Linked DNA regions of Homo sapiens: regions 1, 2, 3, 5, 6 and 7 are each linked to region 4. Evidence: fine-mapped QTL for protein levels in blood plasma. A gene starts in region 4. Each other region holds a variant in brackets. All regions are shown on one strand. Distances are from middle to middle.

The links. PIP is the posterior inclusion probability: the model's chance that the variant is causal. The UK Biobank Pharma Proteomics Project read protein levels with antibody pairs (Olink). The fine-mapping took linkage between variants from a reference panel, not from the people measured, so its PIPs are less certain.
Region 1: its variant is fine-mapped to the plasma level of the CD109 protein (UK Biobank, PIP above 0.99).
Region 2: its variant is fine-mapped to the plasma level of the CD109 protein (UK Biobank, PIP above 0.99).
Region 3: its variant is fine-mapped to the plasma level of the CD109 protein (UK Biobank, PIP above 0.99).
Region 5: its variant is fine-mapped to the plasma level of the CD109 protein (UK Biobank, PIP above 0.99).
Region 6: its variant is fine-mapped to the plasma level of the CD109 protein (UK Biobank, PIP above 0.99).
Region 7: its variant is fine-mapped to the plasma level of the CD109 protein (UK Biobank, PIP above 0.99).

Annotation. Positions count from the first base shown.
Region 1 is chr6:73,250,445-73,254,913 of GRCh38, reverse strand. The region is part of intron 1 of KHDC1 (KH domain containing 1); the gene reads left to right. The region is part of intron 2 of LOC122539213 (KHDC1-KHDC1L); the gene reads left to right. Among named protein-coding and RNA genes, the nearest start is that of KHDC1, 11 kb to the left of the region's middle. The variant C/A (reference allele first, on the strand shown) is at 1,955.
Region 2 is chr6:73,198,947-73,203,415 of GRCh38, reverse strand. No RefSeq gene overlaps it. Among named protein-coding and RNA genes, the nearest start is that of KHDC1L, 24 kb to the left of the region's middle. The variant C/T (reference allele first, on the strand shown) is at 2,279.
Region 3 is chr6:74,338,920-74,343,346 of GRCh38, reverse strand. All of the region lies in intron 1 of LOC101928516 (a long non-coding RNA gene), which reads right to left. Among named protein-coding and RNA genes, the nearest start is that of CD109, 640 kb to the right of the region's middle. The variant T/C (reference allele first, on the strand shown) is at 2,471.
Region 4 is chr6:73,693,088-73,697,556 of GRCh38, reverse strand. CD109 (CD109 molecule) reads right to left here and starts at 1,354. Exons shown (of 33, transcript NM_133493.5): 1 at 1,268-1,354; 2 at 1-157. The coding sequence starts at 1,341. CD109-AS1 (CD109 antisense RNA 1) reads left to right here and starts at 1,426. Exons shown (of 2, transcript NR_110889.1): 1 at 1,426-1,725; 2 at 1,982-3,654. RefSeq lists a silencer at 1,185-1,234 and enhancers at 797-1,511, 1,465-1,724.
Region 5 is chr6:74,944,631-74,949,099 of GRCh38, reverse strand. No RefSeq gene overlaps it. Among named protein-coding and RNA genes, the nearest start is that of SNORD156, 180 kb to the left of the region's middle. The variant T/C (reference allele first, on the strand shown) is at 1,758.
Region 6 is chr6:73,174,085-73,178,553 of GRCh38, reverse strand. All of the region lies in intron 11 of KCNQ5 (potassium voltage-gated channel subfamily Q member 5), which reads right to left. Among named protein-coding and RNA genes, the nearest start is that of KCNQ5-AS1, 33 kb to the right of the region's middle. The variant C/T (reference allele first, on the strand shown) is at 2,727.
Region 7 is chr6:73,216,781-73,221,249 of GRCh38, reverse strand. No RefSeq gene overlaps it. Among named protein-coding and RNA genes, the nearest start is that of KHDC1L, 6.5 kb to the left of the region's middle. The variant G/A (reference allele first, on the strand shown) is at 2,575.

The sequences.
Region 1 (4,469 bases), 440 kb after region 4:
TCTCCTGCCTCAGCCTCCCGAGTAGCTAGGACTAAAGGCGCCTGACACCGTACCCAGCTAATTTTTTGTATTTTTAGTAGAGACGGGGTTTCACTGTGTTAGCCAGGCTGGTCTCAATCTCCTGACCTCGTGATCCGCCCACCTCGGCCTCCCAAAGTGCCGGGATTACAGGCATGAGCCACCGCTCCTGGCCATAAGAAACCTGTTTCTAATTTATTGTGTATCCTTAGTTCTCAGATAAATACACATACACAATTTCTTTTCTTCTTTTTTCTGTATAGATAGCATCATACAATACACTCTTTAGCACCTTGCCATTTTTTAACTCAATATATCTTGTGGATGGTTGCATTTTAGAGCAGAAACACTTTCTTGTAATTTCTTATAGCTACGTAGTCTTTTATTTATTTATTTATTTATTTATTTATTTATTTATTTATTTATTTTTATTTTAAGACAGAGTCTCATTCTGTCGCCCAGGCTGGAGTGCAGTGGCCCAGTCTCAGCTCACTGCAACCTCTGCCTCCCTGGCTCAAGCGATTCTCCTGCCTCAGCCTCCCGAGGAGCAGGGATAACAGGCACGCACCACCACGCCTGGCTAATTTTTATATTTTTAGTAGAGATGGGGTTTCTCCATGTTGGCCAGGCTGGTCTTAAACTCCTGACATCAAGTGATCCCACCCGCCTCGGCCTCCCAAAGGGCTGGGATTACAGGCATGAGCCACTGTGCCCAGCTTGAATCTTTTTATATTTATTATCTGTGGATTTTGTTTCATTCTTACGAATGCCCTCCTTAGTCCATGCCTATAAAATATTTGCTAATGGTTTCCTGTGGTATGGTTTGAGTTTTCTTTTTTACATTTAAATGTTTGATGTTCCTAAGGTGTGATTCGATTTAGGTTGTTAGGTATAGTTCAAGTGAATTTTTATTATTTTTATTATTTTACATATATTTAAGTCTAATTTTACTGTTTTTTGTTGTTGTTATTGTTGTTGCTGTTGTTGTTGGAGACAGAGCCTCACTCTGCCACCCAAGCTGGAGTGCGGTGTATGATCATAGCTCACAGCAGCCTCAAATTCCTGGGCTCCAGTTATCTTCCCACCTCAGTCTCCTGAGCAGCTGGGACTACAGGCATGGACCACTATGCCTGGCCAATTTTTTAATTGTTTTTATTTTTGTGGAGACAAGGTCTCACCATCTTGCCCAGGCTGATCTCAAGCTCCTTGGCTCAAGTGATCCTCCCTCCTTGGCCTCCCAAAGTGCTGGGATTACAGGTGTGACTTAGTGCACCTGGCCTCAAATGGATTTTTAATAGGTTAACCTGTTTATTTTATTTTATTATTTATTTATTTTTTTTTTTGAGACGGACTCTCGCTCTTTCACCCAGGCTGGACTGCAGTGGTGCTATCTTGGCTCACTGCAAGCTCTGCCTCCTGGGTTCACACCATTCTCCTGCCTCAGCCTCCCGAGTAGCTGGTACTACAGGCGCCTGCCACCACACCTGGCTAATTTTTTGTGTTTTTAGTAGAGACGGGGTTTCACCATATTAGCCGGGATGGTTGATCTCCTGACCTTGTGATCCACCCCCCTCGGCCTCCCAAAGTGCTGGGATTACAGGCGTGAGCCACCGTACCCGGCAGGTTAACCTGTTTATTCCAATGATAATTCAATCCTTGATTGAGTAATCCGCCTTTTCCACAGTAATCTGAATTGTCCCCTTTATTAAATATTAAATTTCTATGCATATATGTGGGTGTATTTTTGGTTTTCTGTTCTATTTCACTGATTGGTCTTTTCATGCATTAGTAAAACTGCAGCCTTTTATTTATTGAAGTATTGTACTATTTAGTACATAGATAGGACTAAGCCTTTTTCATGCCTGTGTTTTGTAGAGCTTGTAGTTTAGGAATTATTTTAAAATTTTTACATAGTTTAAAAAACCAAAAGGATGAT[C/A]TTTTATGACATAAAATTATATAAAATTCAATATGTGTTTATAAATAAAGTTTTATTGGGACAGAGCAGTACCCATCATTTATGTATTGCCTCTGACCCCTTTTGCACTGCATTTGATGAGTGGATAATTTTTTTTTTTTTTTGAGGTAGAGTCTCACTCTGTTGCCCAGGCAGCAGTTCAGTGGCACGATCTCAGCTCACTGCAACCTTCGTTTACCAGACTCAAGCCATTCTCCAGCCTCAGCCTCCTGAGTAGCTGGGACTACAGGCGTGAGCCACCATGGTTAGCTAATTTTTTTTTTTTTATCTTTTGAAGAAATGGGGTTTTGCCATGTTGCCCAGGCTGGTTTCCAACTCCTGAGCTCAAAGTGATCCGCCTGCCTTGGCCTCCCAAAGTGCTGGGATTACAGATGTGAGCCATTGAACCCAGCCTGAGTGAGGCTAGTTTTGACACAGACTTCATGCCACAGAGTATAAAATATTTACTGTCCGGCCCTTTATAGAAAATGTTTGTCTGACAATTGCTCTAAATTACTAGAAGAGCTAATTTATTCTAAATACATTGTGATATCTATAAAAAAATTTTCAATGAAATTATTATTAGGATGTGATTTAGGGCCAGGCACAGTGGCTCACACCTGTAATCCCTCCAGTTTGGGAGGTCGACGAGGGCAGATTGCTTGAGCCCACAAGTTAGAGACCAGCCTGGGCAACATAGGGAGACCCCCATCTCTACAAAAAATATGAAAATTAGCTGGGTATGGTGGCTCAGGCCTGTAGTCCCTGCTGCTCAGGAAGCTGAGGCATGGGAATTGTTTGAGCCTGGGAGGTAGAGGTTGCAGTGAGCCCTGATTGCACCACTGCACTCCAGCTTGGGTGACAGGGTGAGACCGTGTTTCAGAAAAAAAAAAAAAAAAAAGATATGATTTAGGCCAAGGCCTGGGCCCTGTGGCTCACGCCTATAACCCCTCTACTCTGGGAGGCTGATATGGGCCAATTGCTTGACCCCAGGAGTTCAAGATCAGCCTGGGCTACTCAGGAGGCTGAAATGGGAGGATCGAATGAGCCCGGGAGGCTGAGGGTGCAGTTAGCTGTGATCTTGCTACTGTACTCCAGCATGGAGGACAAAACGACACCCTGTCTCATTAAAAAAAAAAAAAGAAAAGAAAAGAAAAGGAAAAAAAAGAATTTTTTAAAAAGGATATGATTTAATTTAAATTATTTTTGTCATCAAACTGTGTACTTCCTTGAGTTCAAAATGGCTGAATCTATGGTTTTAGTACAGTTGCAATTCATTGAAATGTGAGTTTCCTTATGTCCAAAATAGAAGACATTGAAACATTTCTTTTTATGTTTATATTTTCCAGTATACAGACAGTGATACTTAAAAATTAAGATGGGACTGAAACTTTTTATGCATTAGATGTCAATATTTTTCTGGTACATGTTTAGGTTAGAGGGCCAGTGATTGGCTTTCTATAGTATTTTTGTTCGCTATAGGTTCCCTGATTCAACATTAAGTCTAGTGTCCTTGAGAATAATTTTTTGACTTTTATTACATATATTGGACCTATTCCCAGTGTATTTTCTCAGGTTTGATAGAAATATCACTGCAGACTTTCTCATACTAGTTGTATTAATAGGATTTCTGTCCAGTGAGATACACAGTAAGAGAATTCCAACTGAAGGACTTTGATTTTTAATGTATAAATATGACTTTTTCTCTCATTATTTATTTATTTTTCGCTACATGATAAAGTGGTAAGGATTTTTTGGTATTCAATAAGGCCAGAACTATTGCATATACATTTTGATTATAAATTATTTGGTGCTAGGCTGGGCACAGTGGCTCAGCCTATAATCCCAGAACTTTGGGAGGCCGAGGCGGGCAGATCGCTTGAGGTCAGGAGTTTGACGATAGCAGCCTGGCCAACATAGCAAAACCTGTCTCTACTAAAAATACAAAAATTAGCATACCTGTAATCCCAGCTACTCGGGAGGCTGAGGCAGGAGAATTCCTTGAACCCGGGAGGTGGAGGTTGCAGTGAGCCAAGATTGCACCACTGCACTGCAGCCTGGGCAACAGAGCGAGACTCGATTTCAAAAAAAAATTATTTGATGCTTAATATTCTGTAACTTGGAAAGTGCTTATGAATGAAAATAATCAAGATAAACTTTGTGCTTTTCACTCTTCAGGTTTTATGTGATAAAACATTGCTACCTACAGTTCATTGTCCCTCCTTGGAGAGTGGAACACTGCTGAGCGCAATCAATCAAAATGAGAGTAGTATGTAAAAGGGACCAGAATCATGTAGCATGATTTGAACAGCAAATAACAGGAAACACTGGTCCAGTTGGATGCTAATAAAGCACTGTATTATTGCCAATAGCAGGCATTCCAGGCATATTATGCCAAGGGCTCAAATTCAGTTTCTTGGTTTGCCTCCCTTTCCACCTTGTGTTGGCTTCCTCTTCAGGTTGGTAGCAAAATACTTGTAGCTATTTCCAAAATCAT
Region 2 (4,469 bases), 490 kb after region 4:
CTTTCAAGAAATCAAGAGAGATAGAGACAATAACTAAATTTCCAAACAGGCCAGTTTTAGCCAACATGTTAAGGAAGTTCCCTTTGCTTTAACTTTTATGAGGAAATTAACTGAAACCAATCTGCATTTTGTTTACTGTTTCTGACCTTCTCAGCTCTTGTCAGTTTATAAAACCAGCCTCCTCTGCTTGACTCACTGTAACATTCATTCAATTGTATAGAAGGAGGTGTTGCACAATTTTAAAATTGCAAACAAAAACCAATTAAGATCTTCAAACTAAATTGTGTTGTAATTTTGTCTTTTGACAGCGGAGAGAAATCCCCATACAACGCCTTGGTGACCAGAGGTCACAGAAGTCTTCTGTGTCGATTGTTGAGTGAAAGTTTAGAAAAAATACTTTGGTTTTTTTCTCCATAACTTACAAACTGGAAAGGGGTGGCGTTCTAAAAGATGAGAAATTTTAAGAGAAAGAAAGAGTGATTGCAGTGTCCACTATTAAAGAAAAGCCAAAAGGGATGCTGGTTGAAGGTGTCCCTTGAATTAGCTTTTTTTTTTTTTTTTTCTTTTTTGAGACGGAGTCTCGCTGTCGCCCAGGCTGGAGTGCAGTGGCGCAATCTCGGCTCACTGCAGGCTTCGCCCCGCGGGGTTCAAGCCATTCTCCTGCCTCAGCCTCCCGCCTAGCTGGGACTACAGACGTCCGCCACCTCGCCCGGCTAATTTTTTGTATTTTTAGTAGAGACGGGGTTTCACCGTGTTAGCCAGGATGGTCTCGATCTTCTGACCTCGTGATCCACCCGCCTCCGCCTCCCAAAGTGCTGGGATTACAGGCGTGAGCCACCGTGCCCGGCCGAATTAGCTTCTAAGAGGTCACAGATGAACTTCTAGTGCAGCTTTTCTGTGCTGCTGGGTGGTCGTGAGTCTGACTGTCATGTGCTGGTTAGTGGGGTGGATGCTGTGGAAATGGAAGTACTTTATATAATTTATTTTATAAGATGCAGTTTGTTTCTAAAGTCAAGGTGGTGTATAGAGTAAAAAAGAGGAAGGGACGGCCGGGCGCGGTGGCTCACGCCTGTAATCCCAGCACTTTGGGAGGCCGAGGCGGGCGGATCAGGAGGTCAGGAGATCGAGACCATCCTAGCTAAGACAGTGAAACCCCGTCTCTACTAAAAATATAAAAAATTAGCCGGGCGTGGTGGCGGGCGCCTGTAGTCCCAGCTACTGGGGAGGCTGAGGCAGGAGAATGGCGTGAACCCGGGAGGCGGAGCTTGCAGTGAGCCGAGATCGCGCCACTGCACTCCAGCCTGGGCGGCAGAGCCAGGCTCCGTCTCAAAAAAAAAAAAAAAAAAAAAAAAAAAGAGGAAGAGAGGGTACTGGAAAGTTGTTGGTAACATGGGAGAGGCTTAAGCATACTTATGAGGGGAAAGGGTGAGATGCTGTAGATATGGGGAAGGGGAGGGGCAGCAGGTGACAACCAAGGGCTTGGGAACCCAGAGTGGAAGAGTTAGTTTACCCTAAAGGCAAGGAGTGGCCAGGCGTGGTGGCTCATGCCTGTAATCCCAGCACTTTGGGAGGCTGAGGTGGACGGATCACCTGAGGTCAGGAGTTCAAGACCAGCCTGACCAACATGGTAAAACCCCATCTCTATTAAAAATACAAAAATTAGGCCAGGCGTGGTGGCTAACGCCTGTAATCCCAACACTTTGGGAGGCGGGGGAGGGTGGATGACCTGAGGTCAGGAGTTCAAGACCCAGCCTGGCTAACATGGTGAAACCCCGTCTTTACTAAAAATGCAAAAATTAGGTGGGCATGGTGTTGCATGCCTGTAATCCCAGCTACTCCGGAGGCTGAGGCAGGAGAATTGCTTGAACCCAGGAGGTGGAGGTTGCAGTGAGCTGAGATTGCACCATTGTACTCCAGCCTGGGCAACAAGACCAAAACTCCATCTCAGAAAAATAAAACAACAACAACAACAACAAAAAATAAAACCCCAAAATTAGCCAGGCGTGGTAGCACACACCTGTTATCCCAGCTACTAGGGAGGCTGAGGCAGGAAAATTTCTTGAACCCGAGAGGTTGAGGTTGCAGTGAGCCGAGATCGTGCCACAGTACCCCAGCCTGTCTCAAAAAAAAAAAAAAAAAAAAAAAAAAAAAGAGAGCAAGGAGCTCCCATCCTGGAGTGGGGTTTGCCTCCTCTCCCACCAAGCAAGCAGAGGGATTTCTGGTAGCGGGGGTAGAACTGGGCATTGCAGCATTGGCCAGAGGGCTCAGATGAGGAGCG[C/T]CAGTGCCAGCACTTCTGAAAAGCATCTATGTGTTGGGGGTGTGCATGGTGTGATGTCCTCATGGCTTAAGTGAGGGTGAGTGGCACCCTGAGCTGCAGCAAGGGGAGGGTGTGAGTACCTAGTTACTTGGGGGGCACAGGAATGGATAGGGATTGGTGATACAGGAAGTGAGTCACAGCAATGCAGGCAAAGGAACAGAGAAGGAAGAAGCAGCAAGTAATGGAAAGAGATGAGTGTCACCAAAGATAAAAAAAGCTGCTGTGCACGGTGGCTCATGCCTGTAAATCTTAGCACTTTTAGAGACCAAGGCGAGTGGATCCTCTGAGCTCAGGAGTTTGACACCAGCCTGGGCAACATGGTGAAACCTCGTCTCTACTAAAACACAAAAAATTAGCCGGGCATGGTGGTGTACACCTGTAATCCCAGCTACTCAGGAAGCTGAGGCACGAGAATTGCTTGAACCTGGGAGGTAGAGGTTGCAGTGAACTGAGATTGCACCACTGCACTCCAGCCTGGGTGACAGAGAGAGAGACTGTGTCCAAAAACAATCAAACAAAACAAACAAACAAACAAAACCAAAAAAACCTAAAAAAGCATACAAGTGAAAAGTTCTAAAAGTAGGTGCAGGTGTTATGACAGTGTATGGAAACCCTAGAACCCTGATATCTATCCTAGAGCATACTGGACTTAAAATAGTCGCCAACATTGTGACAGAAAAGAAGTAAATCATATGACTAGGCAAAGAGTAATATATCATATCAATGTACCTTTGACCTTCCTATTTATTTGAACAGGAAAGTTTTGCCATTCACCAGTTTTTGTGGTGCTGTGATTTCCAGAGCAGTGCCTAAATCGATAGTTTGTGCATAATGTATCTGCTACGTTTCTGTTTTGAAATGTAGCAAAAACTTCAGTAATTTGGAATTAGGTGGGCTAGAGGGAGAAGTCTTGTCGCAGTTAATGAAAATTTGTTTTATTTAATTAATTAGTTTATTTATTTATTGAGATGGAGTCTCACTCTGTTGCCCAGGCTGGAGTGCAGTGGTGTGATCTCTGCAATCTTGGCTCACTGCAACCTCTGCCTCTCGGGTTCAAGCAATTCTCCTGTCTTAGCCTCCTGAGTAGCTGGGACTATAGGCGCACACCACCACGCCTGGCTGATTTTTGTACTTTTAGTAGAGGTGGGGTTTCACCATATTGGTCAGGCTAGTCTTGAATTCCTGACCTCAGGGGATCCAACTACCTCGGCCTCCCAAAGGGCTGGGATTACAGGCGTGAGCCACTGTGCTCAGCCTATTTTTATTTTAAAAACATTTTTAGATTTCTATTTTGTTTTCAAATCTCAGAGCTGTGTGAGATAAAATTTAAGTTTTTCAAAGAAACAATTTTTACTTGTACCAGATTCTCAAAGCAGTTGAATCTAGACTGATAGAAGTTGTCACTTGAAGATCTGGCAGCCCATTTTCATGAATGGTTAGGATAGAATAACTGTTGTAAGTATATTTTGCTTTAAATGGAAGGAGTGGGAAGTACTGCTAAAGTATTTCCAAAAATGTTTGGAAGCGGTTTAACATTTTTAAGTTGGTCAAGCAAGCATATACCATACACAATTTTCTTTTCCCTCATCTAGAAGTTGATAGAACAGGCACATAACTATTTGATCTCTTTAGAGCAGTAGTGGGAAGCCCTTTCTTCCCTCTAGGATAACACTCTGTAATTCTTCCTCCTGTCTAAAACATCTCTATCGGGCTTTGTTGCTTTGTATTCCAGAGTTTTAACATTCTGTATCTCTTTGAAAATAATTCCACTGGGATTAACCCTTGGCACTTAGTGCAAAATTGCTAGTGAAATAGAAAAAATGGGATTTTTTTTAGGGAAGAAGAAAAAAAGGTCCTTTTGGAGCAGAAGCCCTTCCCTGGTGAGGCAGAGCTGGGTAGGTGCTTAAAATGGTAGTTCTGAGTAGCCAGAGGCTGCAACATTTGGGCACCCACCTGGCCCCCATTTCTTAACATTGTTTAGCAAATCCCTTTATTATAGATAACACAAAACTCACATGCGTGGTATCTGAGTTACAATCAATTTCAAATTAATAGTTCTCACAAAAACCCCAGGAGCATATGCAAATCTCCCCCCTTCCCAAAATACCAAAGACTTCTTCCGTAACACTGCAAAAAGATAATTTTTATATTT
Region 3 (4,427 bases), 650 kb before region 4:
AACGTCAGAAGACTTAAATGTCCCTGTCTGACATCTTGGAAGACAGTAGTGGTACTCCCAGCACACAGCTGGAGATCTGAGAACGGACAGACTGCCTCCTCAAGTGGGTCCCTGACCCCCGAGTAGCCTAACTGGGAGGCACCCCCAAGTAGGGGCAGACAGACACCTCACACAGCTGGGTACCCCTCTAAGACAAAACTTCCAGAGGAACGATCAGGCAGTAACATTTGCTATTCACCAATATTCACTGTTTTGCAGCTCCACTGCTGATACCCAGGCAAAGAGGGTCTGGAGTGGACCTCTGGCAAACTCCAACAGACCTGCAGCTGAGGGTCCTGACTGTTAGAAGGAAAACTAACAAACAGAAAGGACAACCATGCCAAAACCCCATCTGTACGTCACCATCATCAAAGACCAAAGGTAGATAAAACCACAAAGATGGGGAAAAAGCAGAGCAGAAAAACCGAAAATTCTAAAAATCAGAGAGCCTCTCTTCCTCCAAAGGAATGCAGCTGCATTCACCAGCAATGGAACAAAGCTGGATGGAGAATGACTTTAACAAGTTGAGAGAAGAAGGCTTCAGATGATCAAATTTCTCTGAGCTAAAGGATGAAGTTCGAACCTATGGCAAAGAAGTTAAAAACCTTGAAAAAAAGATTAGATGAATGGCTAACTAGAAGAACCAATGCAGAGAAGTCCTTAAAGGACCTGATGGAGCTGAAAACCAAGGCATGAGAACTACATAACGAATGCACAAGCTTCAGTAGCCAATTCAATCAACTGGAAGAGAGGGTATCAGTGATGGAAGATCAAATGAATGAAATGAAGCGAGAAGAGAAGTTTAGAGAAAAAAGAATAAAAAGAAATGAACAAAGCCTCCAAGAAATATGGGACTATGTGAAAAGACCAAATCTACGTCTGATTGGTGTACCTGAAAGTGACGGGGAGAATGGAACCAAGTTGGAAAACACTCTGCAGGATATTACCCAGGAGAAACTTCCCCAATCTAGCAAGGCAGGCCAATATCCAAATTCAGGAAATAAAGAGAACGCCACAAAGATACTCCTCGAGAAGAGCAACCCCAAGACACATAATTGTCAGATTCACCAAAGTTGAAATGAAGGAAAAAATGTTAAGGGCAGCCAGAGAGAAAGGTCAGGTTACCCACAAAGGGAAGCCCATCAGACTAACAGTGGATCTCTTGGCAGAAACTCTACAAGCCAGAAGAGAGTGGGGGCCAATATTCAACATTCTTCAAGAAAAGAATTTTCAACCCAGAATTTCATATCCAGTCAAACTAAACTTCATAACTGAAGGAGAAATAAAATACTTTACAGACAAGCAAATGCTGAGAGATTTTGTCACCACCAGGCCTGCCCTACAAGAGTTCCTGAAGGAAGCACTAAACATGGAAAGAAACAACCAGTACCAGCCACTGCAAAAACATGCCAAATTGTAAAGACCATCGAGGCTAGAAGGAACCTGCATCACCTAACGAGCAAACTAACCAGCTGACATCATAATGACAGGATCAAATTCACACATAACAATATAAACTTTAAATGTAAATGGGCTAAATGCTCCAATTAAAAGACACAAACTGGCAAGATGGATAAAGAGTCAAGACCCATCAGTATGCTGTATTCAGGAAACCCATTTCACATACAGACACACACATAGGATCAAAATAAAGAGATGGAGGAAGATCTACCAAGCAAATAGAAAACAAAAAAAGGGAGGGGTTGCAATCCTAGTCTCAGATAAAACAGGCTTTAAACCAACAAAGATCAAAAGAGACAAAGAAGGCCATTACATAATGGTAAAGGGATCAATTCAACAAGAAGAGCTAACTATCCTAAATGTATATGCACCCAATACAGGAGCACCCAGATTCATAAAACAAGCCCTTAGAGACCTAGAAAGAGACTTAGACTCCCACACAATAATAATGGGAGACTTTAACACCCCACTGTCAACATTAGACAGATCAACGAGACAGAAAGTTAACAAGGATATCCAGGAATTGAACTCAGCTCTGCACCAAGCTGACCTAATAGACATCTACAGAACTCCCCACACCAAATCAACAGAATATACATTCTCCTCAGCACCACACCACACTTATTCCAAAATTGACCACATAGTTGTAAGTAAAGCACTCCTCAGTAAATGTAAAAGAACAGAAATTATAACAAACTGTCTCTCAGACCACAGTGCAATCAAACTAGAACTCAGGATTAAGAAACTCACTCAAAACCACTCAACGACATGGAAACTGAACAAACTGCTCCTGAATGACTACTGGGTACATAACGAAATGAAGGCAGAAATAAAGATGTTCTTTGAAACCAATGAGAACAAAGACACAACATACCAGAATCTCTGGGGCACATTTAAAGCAGTGTGTAGAGGGAAATTTATAGCACTAAATGCCCACAAGAGAAAGCAGGAAAGAGATAAAATTGACACC[T/C]TAACATCACAATTAAAAGAACTAGAGAAGCAAGAGCAAACACTTTCAAAAGCTAGCAGAAGGCAAGAATTAACTAAGGTCAGAGCAGAACTGAAGGAGATAGAGACACAAAAATCCCTTCAAAAAATCAATGAATCCAGGAGCTGGTTTTTTGAAAAGATCAACAAAATTGATAGACTCCTAGCAAGACTCATAAAGAAGAAAAGAAAGAAGAATCAAATAGACGCAATAAAAAATGATAAAGGGGATATCACCACCAATCCCACGGAAATACAAACTACCATCAGAGTATACTATAAACACCTCTACGCAAATAAACTAGAAAATCTAGAAGAAATGGATAAATTCCTCAACATATACATGCTTTCAAGACTCAACCAGGAAGAAGTTGAATCTCTGAATAGACCAATAACAGGATCTGAAATTGAGGCAATAATTAATAGCTTACCAACCAAAAAAAGTCCAGGACCAGATGGATTCACAGCTGAATTCTACCAGAGGTACAAGGAGGAGCTGTTACCATTCCTTCTGAAACTATTCCAATCAATAGAAAAAGAGGGAATCCTCCCTAACTCATTTTATGAGGCCAGCATCATCCTGATAACAAAACCTGGCAGAGACACAACAAAAAAAGAACTTTAGACCAATATCCCTGATGAACGTCAATGCAAAAATCCTCAATAAAATACTGGCAAACAGAATCCAGCATCACATCAAAAAGCTTATCCACCATGATCAAGTGGGCTTCATCCCTGGGATGCAAGGCTGGTTCAGTATACACAAATCAATAAATGTAATCCAGCATATAAACAGAACCAAAGACAAAAACCACATGATTATCTCAATAGATGCAGAAAAGGCCTTGGACAAATTCAACAGCCCTTCATGCTAAAAACTCTCAATAAATTAGGTATTGATGGGATGTATCTCAAAATAATAAGAGTTGTTTATGACAAACCCACAGCCAATATCATACTGAATGGGCAAAAACTGGAAGCATTCCCTTTGAAAACTGGCACAAGACAGGGATGCCCTCTCTCACCACTCCTATTCAACACAGTGTTGGAACTTCTGGCCAGGGCAATCAGGCAGGAGAAGGAAAAAAAAGGCATTCAATTATGAAAAGAGGAAGTCAAATTGTCCCTGTTTGCAGATGACATGATTGTATATCTAGAAAACCCCATCATCTCAGCCCAAAATCTCCTTAAGCTGATAAGCAACTTCAGCAAAGTCTCAGGATACAAAATCAATGTGCAAAAATCACAAACATTCTTATACACCAATAACAGACAAACAGAGAGCCAAATCATGAGTGAACTCCTATTCACAACTGCTTCAGAGAATAAAATACCCAGGAATCCAACTTACAAGGGATGTGAAAGACCTCTTCAAGAAGAGCTACAAATAAAACTACACTGAGTTTTATTTTCATTGAGAACTACACTGCTCAATGAAATAAAAGAGGATACAAACAAATGGAAGAACATTCCATGCTCATGGGTAGGAAGAATCAATATCATGAAAATGGCCATACTGCCCAAGGTAATTTATAGATTCAATGCCATCCCCATCAAGCTACCAGTGACTTTCTTCACAGAACTGGAAAAAACTACTTTCAAGTTCATATGGAACCAAAAAAGAGCCCACATTGCCAAGTCAATCCTAAGCCAAAAGAACAAAGCTGGAGGCAACATGCTACCTGACTTCAAACTATACTACAAGGCTACAGTAACCAAAACAGCATGGTACTGGTACCAAAACAGACATATAGACCAATGGAACAGAACAGAGCCCTCAGAAATAATGTCACACATCTACAACTATCTGATCTTTGACAAACCTGACAAAAATAAGAAACGGGGAAAGGATTCCTTATTTAATAAATGGTGCTGGGAAAACTGGATAGCCATATGTAGAAAGCTGAAACTGGATCTGTTCCTTACACCTTACACAAAAA
Region 4 (4,469 bases):
TTCTGCTTCCAGGACAGAGACAGTGAGGTTTGATGCTGTCTTGAGCAGCTCCGCCTTCACAGTCACCTGTGAAGGGCAGTGTTCCAGAAGCTCCACCCCAATAGTCACATTTCCTCCGGGCCTGATGATCCCTGGGGCTGTCACCAGAAACCGAGGCCTAAAGAGTTCCCAACAAGGGAAAAACAAAGTTTCTTATCCTCACATCTCCTTTCTTTTGTGACCCTCAGATTTCCTAGTGCGATAGGCACTCCATACTGCGCCAATTGCAGTTGTTTCCGTTAACATTGCCCACTGCTCTATTTGGCAACTGAATTGAAATGCTACTGAAACAACAATAATTCCCATAAATCAATTTTAATGCAGTAATTCATGCATCACTACTAGAGGAAGGCCTGTGTTATTATTTCCATTTTATAAACCACGAACCGCACAGAAGGAACCATGATGTAAATGGCTTGCACCGGGGCATAATGGAGTTATTGGCAAAGCAAAAGTCTCTAAGCTTCTCCTTTACAGAGGACCTTATCCCAGCGTGATTATTTTCTTGTTGTTGTTGTTATTTTTTAACTAAGATTTTGCCTGTTTCTTATTCAAACCTTTATCCTTGAGTAGCTGCCCAACGAGGGTAAAAAATTATTTAACCAATACCATTGATTGAAATATACCATTTGAAAATAAACTACAACTGGTGAAAATTCCAGGTATAGCGAATCATAAAAGAAGTCACTAAAGCAGCACTTTCTCTGCTATAACTAGGGGTTAGGGCTCAACTACAGAAATCTTTAGGAATGAATGGGGCTTGCCATTATTGGGTGCTGTTGTTTTCTTCCTATAATGTCTGCCCCTGAACCCATACATCAGTCCCCTCCGCCACACTTTGGCAATGCTAAGGTTGAGACATCTTGGTTAGAAAAAATATATCATGTCTTTGAGAGAAGAATCGCAATCTGGGAGCAAAAAGTTGAGAAGCAAAAGGCAGAGGCAATGTGGACTAAAAATAAAATGACTCTCTTCAGAAAGTTGTTATGGCCGGGGAGACGCTTAAACAACTTCATGAGTGGAGAAAGTTAACTGTCCCATGGAGAGCCACGCTGAAGCTACATATGGTCAAACCTCCAGGCCAGTACCAGGCTGGGGACTGCAGCCGCGAGGGCATTTCCCACCCGCTGCTGCACAGCAGCCGCCACCTCCCCGAAGCCCTGGCCCAGAGCCGCAGAGCGGCCCAGGCCCGCGCGCCCGCGCGCCCCCCGCGCGCCCACGTTCCTACCCGGGAGCCACGGCCAGCGCGGCGGTGCACACGCAGAGGAGGTGGGCGGCGGTCAGGAGCGGTGGGCCCTGCATCTCGACGGCGTCTGCCTGGGCTACAGTCCGCTGCCGGGGAAGTTCGCGGGCACCGTGGGGTGTGGCTTGCCACCTCCTCCCTGATTTTTTTTCCCTCTTAATTCGAGTTTAGTAATCTGAAATGGGCGCGCCTAACAGCAGAGTGAGAGATCTAAATTGAGACAGGACTTGGAGGCTCCACCCCTCCCATCCCCATTACAATGGCGCTTCTCGCTGCTGTGGCAAACATCGCAAATCCAGGGGGTGAGAAAGCAGTTGCTAAACGCAGGCGGCCCCACCTGGCCCGGCGTCCCAGCTGGCCGCGGAGAACAGAGCGCGCCCACTTCCCCGGCCCACCGGGTTCCTCAGGCTGTTTACACTAGCGCTCTACCAACGATGCCCAGGGTGAGTAAACAGGCCCATCCTTGTGAGGAGAAATTCATAGCAACTATGTGAAGTGGAAAAAAGTCAATCATTGTCCTCCAGACTATGAGTCAGAATTTTAGAGAAACGGCACACACACACACGCACACACACACGCACGCACACGCGCGCAAAACCGGGGCGTATTTCCTGGGTAGTTATTTAATGTATATGAATGGAAACAGAAAAACTATTTTTCCTTAAAACAAAAAATGAGGTCTACTGCTTTCCTTTCCAGGAAAATGTTATGATTTATCACCTTAAAAAAAAAAAGAAGAAGAGAACTCGCACTGCAGACGTTAGGTGTTGCTACTTGGAACCCTGAAAAAAAATTACCTAAGAAGATGCCTTTATATTTTTGCTACAGAAAGAATTTGGTAGAACTGTAAAGCTTGGAGCAATCTCTGAACACAGTTAGGGTTGGGTTGGCTCTCCTGTCAGAATGAAGGCCAGTGGCCGGTGGTGCCCAGGAGTTATTGATGCCCAACGCTGTCTGGCTTCTTTGCAGCTCCTCTCTCCTGCTCTCTGGCACTGCCACCATCTTCAGATGACTCAGGTTTCACCATGACTACACCATAAAAGCAGGGAACTGCCAGAAACTGTTGGAAAACAGACACATTCAGTCCCTGACAACTTAAACTTTCTAATTCATGGAGCGGTTTTAGATGGTAGCATTCTAATATGGGGCAAAATGCAAACGGAAAAGAGGTCAGCAAAAAGATGTCTCATGACAAAGCTATGTGCTAAATAAGGAAAAGTGAGAAAGTAGCACCTAGACAAACTGTGGTTTGGGGAATCCAGAAACTTGCTTTCCTCCCTTTCCTGTTCCACCCTTTTTCTCCCTGCTGAACAGCTTGCAAAGGTCCTTATGTCCTTTCCTTCAGGCAGCCTATCTTTAGTGGCCAACTTCCTGTGCAGGCAGGACTTAGGAATGGTCAAAAGTGTCTGTGTGGATCCCTGGGTGCTGACCTGTTCCTGACACAGCTGTTACTACTGGTCTCCTCACCTCCGTTGTTCAGAGAGGAGGACCATGGTCAAGGGTGGGCCAAGCACCAAGGTCTAACTCAGTGCTTCTCACATGCCAATGTGTGTGAGAATCACATGAAAACAGACTCTGACTTGGCAGGTCTGGAACGAGGACTGGGATTCTGCTTTACTTTAGCAGACAGTAGGCCATGGAGACTCTACAAGTGGGGGCAATTTGGGGGCAATTTGATGAGCAAAGGCAATTAAGAACACAGAAAATTCTTCTCAATCTTTCACTTCATAAAGGTGGATTAATAAATTCAGGTTCATTCTAGAGGTAGGCAAACATAAGAGGGACTGCAAAAGATTAGATGATAATGTTGCCTCCCGAGAAGACTTACAGAAAGTCTTAGAACCACATTGTATAAATCTGTGTGGATTTTAAAGTGATGCCACCTTCCTGTTTATGCCCTCCTTCCCACAATACACACTTGTCGAAAGGCGTAGTCATGCAAAAATTTAGGCATATGGATTTGCATAGAGATGAGGCTATTACATGCCTGGCACAGAGTAGCTATTCAATAAAAATGTGTTAAAAGGATTAATGAAAAATGTTCATCTCAGAAGTGGGATTTTTTATTAAGAAAAACTGAAAATGAGGCCAGGCGTGGTGGTTCACACCTGTAATCCCAGTAATTTGGGAGACCGAGGCGGGTGGATCACCTAAGGTCACGAGTTCGAGACCAACCTGACCAACATTGTGAAACCCCATCTCTACTAAAAATACAAAATTAGCCAAGTGTGGATGGTGGCACATGCCTGTAATCCGAGCTACTCAGGAGACTGAGGCAAGAGAATTGCTTGAACCTGGGCGTTGGAGGTTGCAGTGAGCCGAGATCGCAGAATTGCTCTCCAGCCTGGGCAACAAGAGCAAAACTCCGTCTCAAAAAAAAAAAGAAAAGAAAAGAAAGAAAAGAAAAAAGAAACACTGAAAATGGGCCGGGCATGGTGGCTTATGCCTGTAATCCCAACATTTTGGGAGGCTGAGGAAGGCAAATCACTTGAGGGCAGGAGTTCAAGACCAGCCTGGCCAAAATGGTGAAACCCTGTCTCTACTAAAAATACAAAAATTAGCCCAGCATGGTGGCACATACCTGTAATAAAAGCTACTCAGGAGGCTGTGGCATGACAATCACTTGAACCCAGGAGGTGGAGGCTGCAGTGAGCCAAGATGGTGCCACTGCACTCCAGTCTGGGTGACAGAGCAAGACTCTGTCTCAAAAGAAAAACTGAAAATGGTCTGAACATGTAACAATAAGATATTGGGTTTGCTGTCATTTGGATGTTTGTCGCCCAAAGCTGATGCTGAAATTTGATCCCCAGTGTTGGAGGTAGAGCACAATGTGAGATGTTTGGGTTCTGTGGGTGGATCCTCATGAATAGATGAATGTCCTCCCTGGGGGTCGGGGGGTGAGTGAGTACTCAGTTCCCACAAGAATTGGTTGTTAAAAAGAGCCTGGCACCTCCTGCTTCTCTTGTTTCCTCTCTCACCATGGGATCTCTGCACACTAGCTCCCCTTCCCCTTCCACATGAGTGGAAGCAGCCTGAGGACCTCACCAGAAGCCAAGCAAATGCCAATGTCATGCTTCTTGAACAGCCTGCAGAATTGTAAGCCAAGTAAACTTTTTTTTTTAATAAATTACCCAGCCTTGGGTACTACCTTATAGCAACACAAAACAGACAAAAACAGGATTAAATA
Region 5 (4,469 bases), 1.3 Mb before region 4:
TGGGGGCTCCATTCCCCCCAGAGTCAAGCTGTGCAGAGTCAGCATGGTTGCACACAGGCCTGGGTTCAGTGGCAAGCGGTATATCCTGACAAACACGGTAGGTTGCAGAGTTAGTCCTGCATCTTGCCTCCTCTATCCACCACTCCCTCATCCCCCCACCCCTCTCAACATGTGAGTCTTGCTTATTTCCCTATATTTGCTTTTCTTGACTTCTATGATCTGTTACTTATGTGACTCCGTTGTTCTGATTTTCTTATTTTGAGTTTCTCTTTGAAGGATAAGAGATGCTGGCAATTTCCTTTGTCTATATGGCAATGTCTTTGTCCCTTTGTGTCTGAGCATCACAAGATATATAAGATATCCATACATTAAGATGGAAAATATTTCTGGATTCACTCCTATTTGTAAACATTTGGGTCTGGGAAGAATGAGGAAAGGAAATGCTAATACTACATTTCAAGCTTATAAACATTTACAAAAATACATGCATCAGATTGGTTTTTTAGATACCATTTTGCAACATGTAGATGCAACTCATACCAAAATAACTTCTTTGACAGGTGTTTCTCTGAGTAGGCATGGTGTCACTTCCATTAAGGCAGAGGGCTTGATCATACATTTTTTGATGCGTCAATGTCTAAAGTACCCTTCCTTCCTCCTTCCTTCCTTCCTTCCATCCTTCCTTGCTTCCTTCCTTCCCTCCCTCCCTCCCTCCTTCCTCCCTTCTTCCTTCCTCCCTTATTTTCTCTGTCTCTCCCTCCCTCCCCCTCCCTCCCTTTCTTCCTCCCTCCCTCTCTTTCTCCCTTCCTCCCTTCCTTCCTTTTCCTCTCCTTCCTTCATCTCCTTCCTTCCTTTCTTTCTTTCCTTCTTTCTTTTTGAAACAGTTTTGCTCTGTCACCAGGCTGGAGTGCAGTGGTGTGATCTTGGCTCACTGCAACCTCTGCACACAGATTCAAGCGATTCTTCTGCCTCAGCCTCCAGAGTAGCCGGGATTACAGGTTCATGCCACCACGCCCGGCTAGTTTTTGTTTTATTAGTAGAGATGGGGTTTCACCATGTTGGCCAGGCTGATGTCGAACTCCTGACCTCAAATGATCCACCTGCCTCAACCTTCCAAAGTGCTGGGATTACAGGTGTTAGCCACGGCGCCCAGCCTAAAGCACCGTTTCTACAGTGAACAGCATACCAAACTTTTATTCCAGATTAAAATCCCAAACAAAAGACAAAGAAGATCTGTAAAATTCCTGCAGCAATTTTACAATGTTTTGTTTATTGGCTATATTTTAAATAAATAAATGAAATATTACCTCAAATGAAAGCATTCACATTGAATTCTAAACAAATAAAATGGAATGAGCAAAATTGAGTCAGGGAGCAAGAAGTATTTATTTGAAGCCATTTGATGTGCCTGATACTGTTTTAAGTGCCCAGGAATCCATGAAAAACATATAAAAATAATCCTTGCCAATAAGGAGTGTTAAATCTAGATCGAAAAACTGTGTAGAAAATAGCTAAAGAACAATGTAGGAAATAACAGATTCCTTTTGGTAGGTAGAAACTTAAGTACAATATGATCAGACTATAAGTTTATTTTAGGTTCAGTTAGGAAAGTGAAGCTGCAGTGGAACCAAGAGACATAAAATCAAAGAATCACATTCCTGCTTTCAAGACATATTTGAAGTCTTGCTCGTGATTGGAAAAATATACACTGATTCTAAATATGTTTAATATATTTTATTAAACCTATCTGGGTACCA[T/C]TGGTCATGTTGGGAGGGAGTAACTCCCAACTTAAGCCAAATGCTCAGTGGGGAAAACATCCTACCTTGGCAGGAGAACAAGAATAAAGGTGAAACAATAAGGCATTTTCCAGGTTCAACCAAGTTCTGTGTAAACCGAAGAAGCTAGGCTGAGAACAAGACAGAATTGTAAAAAGATCAAATGAAAAAGAATGTGTGCACTGGCTTGCCTCTGTGACTCATTTGAGAGTGAAATTGTTATCACATGAGCCATTTCCTGAAGTTTTAAAAAATATCGGGCCCTGTTCTGTTTCATTGATCTCTGATCTTTGACAAACCTGAGAAAAATAAGAAATGGGGAAAGGATTCCCTATTTAATAAATGGTGCTGGGAAAACTGGCTAGCCATATGTAGAAAGCTGAAACTGGATCCCTTCCTTACACCTTATACAAAAATTAATTCAAGATGGATTAAAGACTTAAACGTTAGACCTAAAACCATAAAAACCCTAGAAGAAAACGTAGGCATTACCATTCAGGACATAGGCATGGGCAAGGACTTCAGGTCTAAAACACCAAAAGCAATGGCAACAAAAGCCAAAATTGACAAATGGGATCTAATTCAACTAAAGAGCTTCTGCACAGCAAAAGAAACTACCATCAGAGTGAACAGGCAACCTACAAAATGGGAGAAAATTTTCGCAACCTACTCATCTGACAAAGGGCTAATATCCAGAATCTACAGTGAACTCAAACAAATTTACAAGAAACAAACAAACAACCCCATCAAAAAGTGGGCGAAGGACATGAACAGACACTTCTCAAAAGAAGACATTTATGCAGCCAAAAAACACATGAAAAAATGTTCATCACCACTGGCCATCAGAGAAATGGAAATCAAAACCACAGTGAGATACCATCTCACACCAGTTAGAATGGCAATCATTTAAAAGTCAGGAAACAACAGGTGCTGGAAAGGATGTGGAGAAATAGGAACACTTTGACACTGTTGGTGGGACTGTAAACGAGTTCAACCCTTGTGGAAGTCAGTGTGGCGATTCCTCAGGGATTTAGAACTAGAAATACCATTTGACCGAACCATCCCATTACTGGGTATATACCCAAAGGACTATAAATCATGCTGCTATAAAGATACATGCACACGTATGTTTATTGTGGCACTATTCACAATAGCAAAGACTTGGAACCAACCCAAATGTCCAACAATGATAGACTGGATTAAGAAAATGTGGCCCATATACACCATGGAATACTATGCAGCCATAAAAAAGGATGAGGTCATGTCCTTTGTAGGGACATGGATGAAATTGGAAATCTTCATTCTCAGTAAACTATCGCAAGAACAAAAAACCAAACACCGCATATTCTCACTCATAGGTGGGAATTGAACAGTGAGAACACATGGACACAGGAAGCGTAACATCACACTCTGGGGCCTGTTGTGGGGTGGGGGGAGGGGGGTGGGATAGCTTTAGGAGATATACCTAATGTAAATGACGAGTTAATGGGTGCAGCACACCAGCATGGCACATGCATACATATGTAACTAACCTGCACATTGTGCACATGTACCCTAAAACTTAAAGTATAATAATAATAATAATAATAATAATAAAAACAAACATCGGGCCCATCTTTGAACTCTGGTCTATCTACCTCCAAAGCCTGTGTTCCTGTGTCCTTCGTCTTCCAATGAAGAGCCCAGGAGGTGTTATTGGGAGAAAAATATCATGAAATTGCTTGAGGCGCTTCTAGGAGACAGAAGACATTGTGGAACTAGAAGTAGAGCAGAGAGATTCAAACTCCAGTGAATCGAAAATGGTCTAGGAGACAACTGGGGCTGGTGGTGACTGTGGAAAGTATACTCATGTCTCAGAGGACCCCTGGCTAATCAGCCTCTGCCAACTGTTGTCATAAGGAGATGTGGGTATGCTTAGTCCTCCAGTGTTTCAAGAGGAACCAGAAATCTAATTGTTCATGTAAAAATGTCTCTCATATTTTAAATGCTGGTACTTATTCATTTGTTTTTAAAAATAAAAATATTCTATAGGTCAAATAAAACATTTCTGACTGGTAATTGGTCTGTGAGTCAGGAGCTGGCAAAATCTGAGATGGTGTGCCGTGCTGCGCAAGCCTTATTACTTGAAGGTTTCTTGTTTTAGCTCTTCTTTTACTTGAGAAAGCCTGTAGGGAGACAAGGGTTATCTTCCTTTGTGCTTTTGACTTTCAGGAGAATGGAGCTATTCTGGAGAGAGAATGGCAGTGGATTAAAAGTTCTGAACCTGCCTGGGTCTCAATCACAGAAACCTGAAACAGCCATTGGACCCCCATTGCTAATCCCTGTGCAGTCTGTAGTCACACCTGGAGTGTCAGCTTTTATAGGTGGAGGTAAGCTTTATATACCTTCATTGTAACTAGTCCAGGTTGAGACAGAAAGTGAATACTCAAGAAACACCCTAATGTTCACAAAACCATTTAATGTAGATCTAGGCATATGAAATGGATACTATTTGATTGTTTTTGACCTTAAAAGAGTCAATTTCATATTATTGTTACTGCCTCAAAGCCATCTCCTTTCCCAGATACTAACCCGTATAAGCAGATTTGTGAAGTCATCAGAGTTTGTTTTTGAAGAAATTTAGCATGGTGGTTAAAAGTGTGGGGCTATGGAGCCAGATTACCTGGGTTTGAATACTGGCTTTCCTACCTTCCA
Region 6 (4,469 bases), 520 kb after region 4:
CAGACATTCTGTGGCCACACTGTTTCCACCACTGAGAGTAGACTTGTTCTCCTAATGCTTGCCATTATTGTCCTTTATATGCAGGATCTAGTAGGCTCTCCTGCAGAGTTTTTGTTTTTTTTTAATGTTTGTAGAGATGGGTCTTGCTATGTTTCCCAGGCTGGTTTCAAACTCCTGGGCTCAAGCCATCCTCCCAGCTCAGCCTCCCAAAGTGTTGAAATTATAGGCATGAGCCACTGCACCTGGCCCCTCCTGTAGATTTTTGTTGGATTTTCTTTTAAGGGTATAAGAGTAGTAAAACCCAAGCAAGAACTTCCAGATCCGAAGAAGTCTTTCCTGCCAGGAATTTGTAAGCATTGATATGGCGACTAAATTTGGGGATTTTGTGTTCCTAGGAGTGTAAAATCTTGCATAAATTTTAAAGTGTAAAAAAAAAAACCAAATAATAAAGTGTGAAATGAATAAGTAAATAAATAAATTGACTATACATGTTGACTACTTTAAAATATTTTTAACATGGAATAGGAGATTCTATATTTTTAGCAAATAATAGAAAACTCAGTTTAAATTATAGCCAAAGAAAAGGTTTAATATCTCACATGCTACAAAGTAAGTGCATCTTCAGTGAAAACACTACTTTAACACAGCCTCGGAGCAAATGTAGCCACAACTAATTACCTTCAAAACAAAAACAAGCAAAAACAACATTCCAGGGAGTATATTAGCTGATTTTAAAGATATGTGCTAAATGATCCATAAAATGTTCTTTAGCAGCGTCCTTTACTGTAACATGTCATAGATTGGCTGTCAAGAATGTCTTAATAGTGACTTGCAAACAAAGACTCATCACCTCTGCTAAAATAGCAGAGATGCCATCAGCAAAATTAAGAACTGGTGATGATTAAACAGCTTGTAGATTTAACAAAACCCGCAATGGCAAACACGTGCCTCTTCTTTACTTGCGGAGTATTCTTGCCTGAAATATGAAGTGAGATGCAAGAAGGATTCACAGCTGAGATTGCATTTTAGGGATGGTCAAGATAATGGTCCCATACATGCCTTTCAGAACAGGAATAACACAGGGGCAAGAAAACTGAAAAACTTTATCACCCAACCCAGGGTAACAGTGAGGCCTGATTTGCATATCCACCTCAGGAACTCTGAAATGTCATTAGTGGTTCTTCAGTTCACTGATCAGATCTGAGCTATTTTAGAAGAGTTGATGAGCCTTTGCTAGTTACAAAGAAATTCTTGACACTTCATCTATGTTCATATTAGAGTGAGAGATTCTGGTAATTTAAAAAAGTGTTCTATTTACCATCTGGCTTCAAACCCTTTTCCTTCTACTGAATTTTTCTCCGAAGTCACAGATGACCTCCTTGTTGCCACTTTCAAAGGACCTTCTCACTCTTTATCTTCTTTGACCTCTTAGCAGCATTTAACAGCGTTGACATCTGCCTCCTACTTGAAACACTTTCTTCCTCTGGCTTCTCTTCTGTCACGCTCTCCTGGTTTTCCATCTGTCTGGCTGTTTGAATCTATCTCCTTCAGAGCATTCTTACTTTTGCAGCTCCTGTTTGTGAGCCTTAGACTTCTGTGTTGACCATCTTCTCTTTTTACTCCCTGGGGTGAGACTTCCACAAACCATTTATCTCTGTGCTGACAGCTACCAAATTTGTCCATATTCCAGACTGCTCTCCTGGGTGTCAGATCCAGAGATCCACCTACCTGCTGAGCCCTACTGTGACTGCTTGAACTCAACACTCACAATAATGCACCATCTCCCCTCAAGCCAGCCTGTCTCACCATCCTCCAGATATGCCATCCTTGATTCCTCCTGTTCTTTCCCTCCATCCTCTCCAATCAGTAAATATCCAAATCCTATCTGAAATCCATCCTTGACTATTCTCCATCATGACTGCCCAGCTCAGGCCCCAGCAGATCCAGGTATTGTAATAATAGTTCTCTCTTCCCAATACATTCCTTACATTGCAATCAGAGTCATCTTTCCAAGTTTTCAAATGAAGCACTGCGTTAGTCCATTCTTGCACTGCTGTAAAGAAATACCCGAGACTGAAAAATTTATAAATAAAAGAGGTTTCATTGGCTCATGGTTCTGCAGGCTGTGCAGGAAGCACGACTGGGGAGGCATCAGGGAACTTAAAATCATGGCGGACGGCAAAAGGGAAGCAGGCTTCTTATGTGGCCGGAGCAGCAGGAAGAAAGAGAGAAGCGGGAGGGAGGTGCTACACACTTTTAAACCACCAATCTCATGAGAACTCACTTGCTATTATGAGAACAGCAAGGGGGAAATCCGCCCCCATGATCCAATCACCTCCCACCAGGCTCCTCCTCTGACATTGGGGATTACAGTTTGACATGAGATTTGGGCAAGGACACAGATCCAAACCATATCATGCACTGATCTGATAAATTCATTTCTGTACTTAGAATCCCCCACATTCCTGCTCATTCTTATGGTTCCTGCTCTTCTCTTCAGCCTTACTCTCCTCATCCTTGTCCTCCACCTTCAACCATCACCCGTGCTTTCTAATGCCACCTTCACTTCTGCTTCTTTGCAATTGCAGTTCTCTCTGCCCAGCCTCTATATCCTCCTTAGTAACCTGGCTAGTTCCTACATATCTACCAGATTTCTTCTTTTCTTTCTTTTAGAGTCTTCCCAAATGCCACCTTCCCCAAAAGTGCCGATATAGGTTGGCCCAAAC[C/T]GTCCTGTCACTGTAGTAATATGCTGCTCTGCATTGTAATTGACTCTACTTTTCTGGTAGTTCCTCACAACTCTAAGCAGGGATCCATCTTTTTTGTTAACGTTTATCTCTGTGCCTGGTGCACAGTTGAAGCTCAAGACCTATTTTTCAAATGCATGCACTGAACGCTGGGAAGAGTTTTAAAGAGTCTATAGTCAGGCTTCGACAAGGGTCAGGGAGGGAGAGGGAAGAGCTAACTTCTCCCTTTCATTATCCTGTTGCTTCTTCAGAGGGTGCCTGGGAAGGCAGCAAGCTCACCCTGAGGAGAAAAGAGGTGAGATTTACTTGGAACATTGGCTCATGATTGCTCTTCATGGTTGAAAAAATTGCTCTTCTAGACCAGGCGCAGTGACTCATGTCTGTAATCCCAGCACTTAGGGAAGCCAAGGGGGGGGCAGATCACCTGAGGTCGAGAGTTCGAGACCAGCCTGACCAACATGGAGAAAACCTGTCTCTACTAAAAATACAAAATTAGCCAGTCATGGTCGTGCATGTCTGTAATCCCAGCTACTCAGGAGGCGGAGGCAGGAGAATCGCTTGAACCTGGGAGGTGGAGGTTGCAGTGAGCCAAGATCGCGCCGTTGCACTCCAGCCTGGGCAACAAGAGTGAAACTCTGTTTCAAAAAAAAAAAACTGCTCTTCCAACTCTGAGTAATTTCTCAGTCCAGGTAGTGGGAAGGTAACTTCAAGGGGAAAATGGCAAGTGCTTCCAGGTGAAGGAGATGCAAGCAGGTGAGGCTGTGTATGTTTTGGAAGATGGGAGCACCCTGATTCAAAGACAGAACAAAGTGCTCTTCTCATGTGACTCATCATGGAAGCGGGTGGAGCTCAGAAAGGAAAAGACTGACCCAGAGCAGAGGACGGGCAGTGGAGGCAGCATGCTGGAAGGCATAAGGAGTCCAGACAACTCAAGGGTAATAATATTAGCATTTACATAGTGCTGACCGTGTATACCGTTCTAAGTGCTTTGCAAATGTTTATTCATTTATTCATTCCTTACTACAACCCTATGAGGTCAATACCATTACCATCCCCAGTTTGCCAGTGAGGAAACAGAGGCTTGAAGAGGGAATATGAGTTGCTCAAGGATGTACAGAGGCTGTCCTGTTTCTTGGACTACCTCTCCCTAGCAGCTTCAGGGAGGGTGGGAGGAGGGGATAGAATTAGCCAATGGTACCAGTGTAAAGTCGTTTGTCAGCTTCAACTAAAGACTTCTTTGAGTTTTCACCCTGGACCTTATTCATGTATTCATTTGATTCTCTAAAAGGCTAGTCTGGCCTGGGAAAGAAAAGGTTTCATAAAGTGAAACATAGCAGGCATGACCATTATTGCACGGAGATAGTAAGAGACGGTAAGAGCAAGGCACAATCGATAGCGTCTTGGTCATTTCTCTTCAGAATAATGAATAATCTGCATCAGTGGTTTTGTTGATATTCACAAAAAGAACAGGTTTCACAGTATTTTGATTCAGTTCTTGACAACTGACATAAAACATGGTTGTATAAAACAAACGGACAGGAAAACAACTGTCACTGAGGATCTTATTAAGAGTGGCCTTAAAAGTGTGATCTGAGGACCAGAGCTGCTTCACCAACTCTTGGGTACCAATCCATGAAGAGATTAGTGCTTAGAAACTTTTAATAGCAATTTGACAGGATAATTTTATATCTGTTGAAATAGTTTTAAAAATTGAAAAAAAAAAAA
Region 7 (4,469 bases), 480 kb after region 4:
TTTTAACATTTAAATATTTGATGTTCCTGAGATGTGTTTTGATTTTGGTTGTTAGGTCTTGTTCAAACAGATTTTTAATATTTTATACATATATACTTTTACATCTATTCTTACTGTTTTATTTTTTGGAGACAGGGTCTCACTCTGTCACCCAGGCTGGAGTGCAGTGGTGTGATCATAGGTCACAGCAGCCTCAAACTTCTGGGCTCAAGTTATTTTCCCACCTCAGCCTCCCAAGTAGCTGGGACTACAGGTGCACGTAACTTCTCCTGTCTAATTTTTTAATTTATTTCATTTTTGTAGAGAAAAGATTTCACCATCTTGCCCAGGCTGATCTCAGTCTCCTGGGCTCAAGTGATCCTTGTGCCTCAGCCTCCCAAAGTGTTGGGATTACATGTGTGAACCACTGAGCCTGGTCTCAATTGGATTTTTAATAGGTGAATCTGTTTATCCCAATGATTACTCAATCATTGAATGAGTAATCCACCTTTTCCACACTAATCTGAATTGTCTCCTTTATCAAATATTAAATTTCTATGCATATATGTGGGTTTTTTTTGGTTTTCTATTCTATTTCATTAATTTGCCTTTCTGTTCATGCATCAATAAAACACAGCCTTGTATTTATTGAAGTTTTGTACTACTTGGTACATGGTAGGACTAATCCGTTTTTTTGTCTACTTTTTGTACAGCTTGTGGTTTAGGAATCATGGATCACATGGCTTACATGGTTTAAAAAATTAAAAGAAGGTTAATATTTGATTATGCATTAAATTATATAAAATTCAATGTGTGCTTATAAATAGAGATTTTTGAGATAGACCGGTACCTATCATTTATTTATGTATTGCTTCTGACCAGTTTTGCACTGCAATTGCTGAGTGAGTAGTTTTGACAGAGACTGCATGACATAAAACATAAAATATTTACTCTGTGGCCTTTATAGAAAAAGTTTGCCTGACAATTGCTCTAAATCACCAGGAAGAGCTAATTTACTTTGAATATGTTGTGATACTTGTAAAAACCTTTCCAACAAAATCATTACTTAAGGATATGATTTAGGCGGGGCTGGGTGGCTCACGCATGTAAGCCCAGGACTTTGGGAGGCTCTGGTGGGATGATTGCTTGACCTCAGGAGGTCAAGACAGACCAGCCAGGGCAACATGAGAAACCCCATCTCTACAAAAACTACAAAAAAAACTAGCTGAGCATGGTGGGGCATGACTGTAGTAGTCCCAGCTACTAAGGAGGCTGAGACGTGAGGATCGAATGAGCCTGAGAGGTTGAGGGTACAGTAAGCTGTGATGGTACCACTGCCCTCCAGCCTGGATGAGTGAAGCAGACCCTGTCTAAAAAAACAAAAAAATTTTAAAGGATATGATTTACTTTACGTTATTTTTGTCATTGAATTGTGTACTTTCTTGAGGGCAAAATAGCTGAATCTATGACTTTAGTATAGTTGCAATTCATTACAATGTGAGTTTTCTCATGACCAAAATAAGATGAAAAGACATTGAAACATTTCTCATTGCTTATGTTATTTTCCAGTGTACATTCAGTGGTACTTAAAAATTAAGATGGGACTGAAACTTTCTATGGGTTAGATGTAAATTTTTTTCTGATACATGTTTAGGTTAGCAGGCCAATGATTGGCTTTCTATATTATCGATAATATTTTTCTCCACCTAAAGTTTCCCTGATTCAACATTAAGTCTAATGTCCTTTAGAATAAATGTTTGACTTTTGTTACATTTATTGGACTTGTCCCAGTGTATTTCTTCAGGTTTGATAGAACTATCACTGAAGACTTTCTCATACTAGTTGTATTAATAGGATTTCTCTTCAGCAAGATACACAGTAAGAGAATTCCAAATGAAGGGCTTTGACATTTAATGTAGAAATAGAATTTTTCTTTTTTCTCTGTTTATTTATTTATATATTTTTGGCTACAAGATGAAGTGGTAAGGATTTTTCTATAGTATTAGTTTTTTGGTACTCAATAGGGCCTGAATTACTGCATATACATTTTGATTATAAATTCTTTGATGCTTAATATGACTTGGAAAGTGCTTATTAATGAAAATAATCAAGACATACTTTGTGCTTTTCACTCTTGAGGTTTTATGTGATAAAACACTTGTTACCTGCAGTTCATTCTCCCTCCTTGGAAAGGGGAACATTGCTGGGCTCAATCAATCAAAATGAGAGAAGTATGTAAAAGGGACCAGAATCATGTAGCATGCTTTGAACAGCAAATAATAGGAAACACTGGTCCAGTTGGATGCTAATAAAGCACTGTATTAGTGCCAATAGCAGACATTCCAGGCATATTATGCCAAGGGCTCCCTTCCACCTTGTGTTGGCTTCCTCTTCAGGTTGGTAGCAAAATACCTGTAGCCATTTCCAAAATCATATCCTGTCATAAACACCAGGAGAAAGAAAGAAGATATGAGTCCTTTTTTGTGTCTCTTTTCAGAAATGAGACAACCTCTGCTGGAAGCCTCCTTTAGGTTTTACTTCATTTCAAAACTGGTACATGTGCCATTTCCTAAAGCAATCACTGGCAAGGGGAAT[G/A]AGATTATCACGATTAGTCTAAACTAATCACCTGGAGTTAAATTGATGTTAGAAGTTAATGTCCATCAGCACTAAACAGGATTCTATTTTTCTATGTTTTGACATCATCTGCGAGTTGAAAAACTGCAACTGTGAGCCAGAGATTGACAGAGTGATAGAGCCACTGAATGAGAAATGGATTTATGACCTGGGAACTTGAGAAGCCATGCTAAATGAAACCCACACATTTGAAGCTGCCAAATTCTCATAGAATATCTATTTGTTCAAGTATAAGGAATCTTGAGAAACTCATGTAGGATGCAATAGAAACTATATTTCATTTGAGTGCGTATTTGTTAGCATAGTCCTGCTTTTTAAATGCTGTATTACCAGGCACAGTGGCTCACGCCTGTAATCTCAGCACTTTGAGAGGCTGTGGATCACTTGAGGCCAGGAGTTCGAGACCAGCGTAGACAACATGGTGGATCCAGTATCTACTAAAAATACAAAAGTTAGCTGGGTGTGGTGGTGCGTGCCTGTAGTCCCAGCTACTCAGGAGGCTGAGACAGGAGAATCACTTGAACCTGGGAGGTGCAGGTTGCAGTGAGCTGAGATCGCGCCACTGCACTCCAGCCTGGGCGACAGAATGAGACCCTGTCTCAAATAAATAAATAAATAAATAAATAAATAAATAAATAAATAAATACTCTACAATGAGGCTGGGTGCAGTGCCTCATACCTGTAATCCTGGTGCTTTGGGAGGCTGAGGCAGGAGGATCACTTGAGTACAGGAGTTTGAGACATCAGTGAGCTATGATTGCGTCACTACTCTGGCCTGGGCAATAGGTCAAGACCCTGTCTCTAAACTCAAAACAAAAGAAGAAAAACAAAACCAAAAAAACCCTCTGCCATCAGAAAATTATTGACACTTTTGGTTTCAGATGTGCCCATCTTGCTGTGAGTCTACATCCAGCATGGACAGGCAAAGCTAAGAGTATCAGGACTCCTCTCTTTGCTGTGTGTGTGCACCTTCCCATGAATATACGAAATAAAGATGATTACTTACTCCATGTGTTACACTTGCAAACCTTGCCTTTTTTATTACTCTAAAATATGAGGTAACCAAGATTGTGCATAACTAGTATTAGACAACTCACTGCACACCATCTCTGACTCTGCGTTTGTTGCCCTATGTGGTACTTAGGATGATATTATTTCCATAATTGTGCATGAATAATTTTTCCAGGGCCACCAGCTGGTCCTAGCTGGCTGCCTTCTCCTCCACCCCTGCTGACTATATAAGTGGTTTGTTATTTTTCAAAGATAATTTTTGTAAAACTTGTATTTTAGATTTTGGGACACATGTGAAGGTTTGTTACATAGGTAAGCTTGTGTCATGGGAGTTTGTTGTACAGATTATTTCATTACCCAGGTATTAAGCCCATTACCCACTATTTATCTTTCCTGCTTCTTTCCCTTTTCTTACCCTCCACCCTCAAGTAGAACTTAATGTCTGTTGTTTACTTCTTTGTATTCATGAGTTCTTATCATTTGGCTCCCACTGGTAAGTGAGAACATACAATATTTGGTTTTCTCTTCCTGTGTTAGTTTGCTAAGGATAATGGCCTTCAGCCCCATCCATGTTCCTGCAAAAGATATTATCTTGTTCTTTTTTATGGCTGCATAGTATTCCGTGGTGTATATGTACTAAATTTTCTTTATCCAGTCTGTCATTGATGGGCATTTAGGTTGATTCTATGTCTTTGCTATCATGAATAGAGCTGTAATGAACATTCATGTGCATATATTTTTACGGTAGAATGATTTATATTCTTCTGGATAGATACCCAGTAATGGGCTTGCTGGATCAAATGGTACTTCTGCTTTTAGCAGTTTGAGGAATCACCATACTGCTT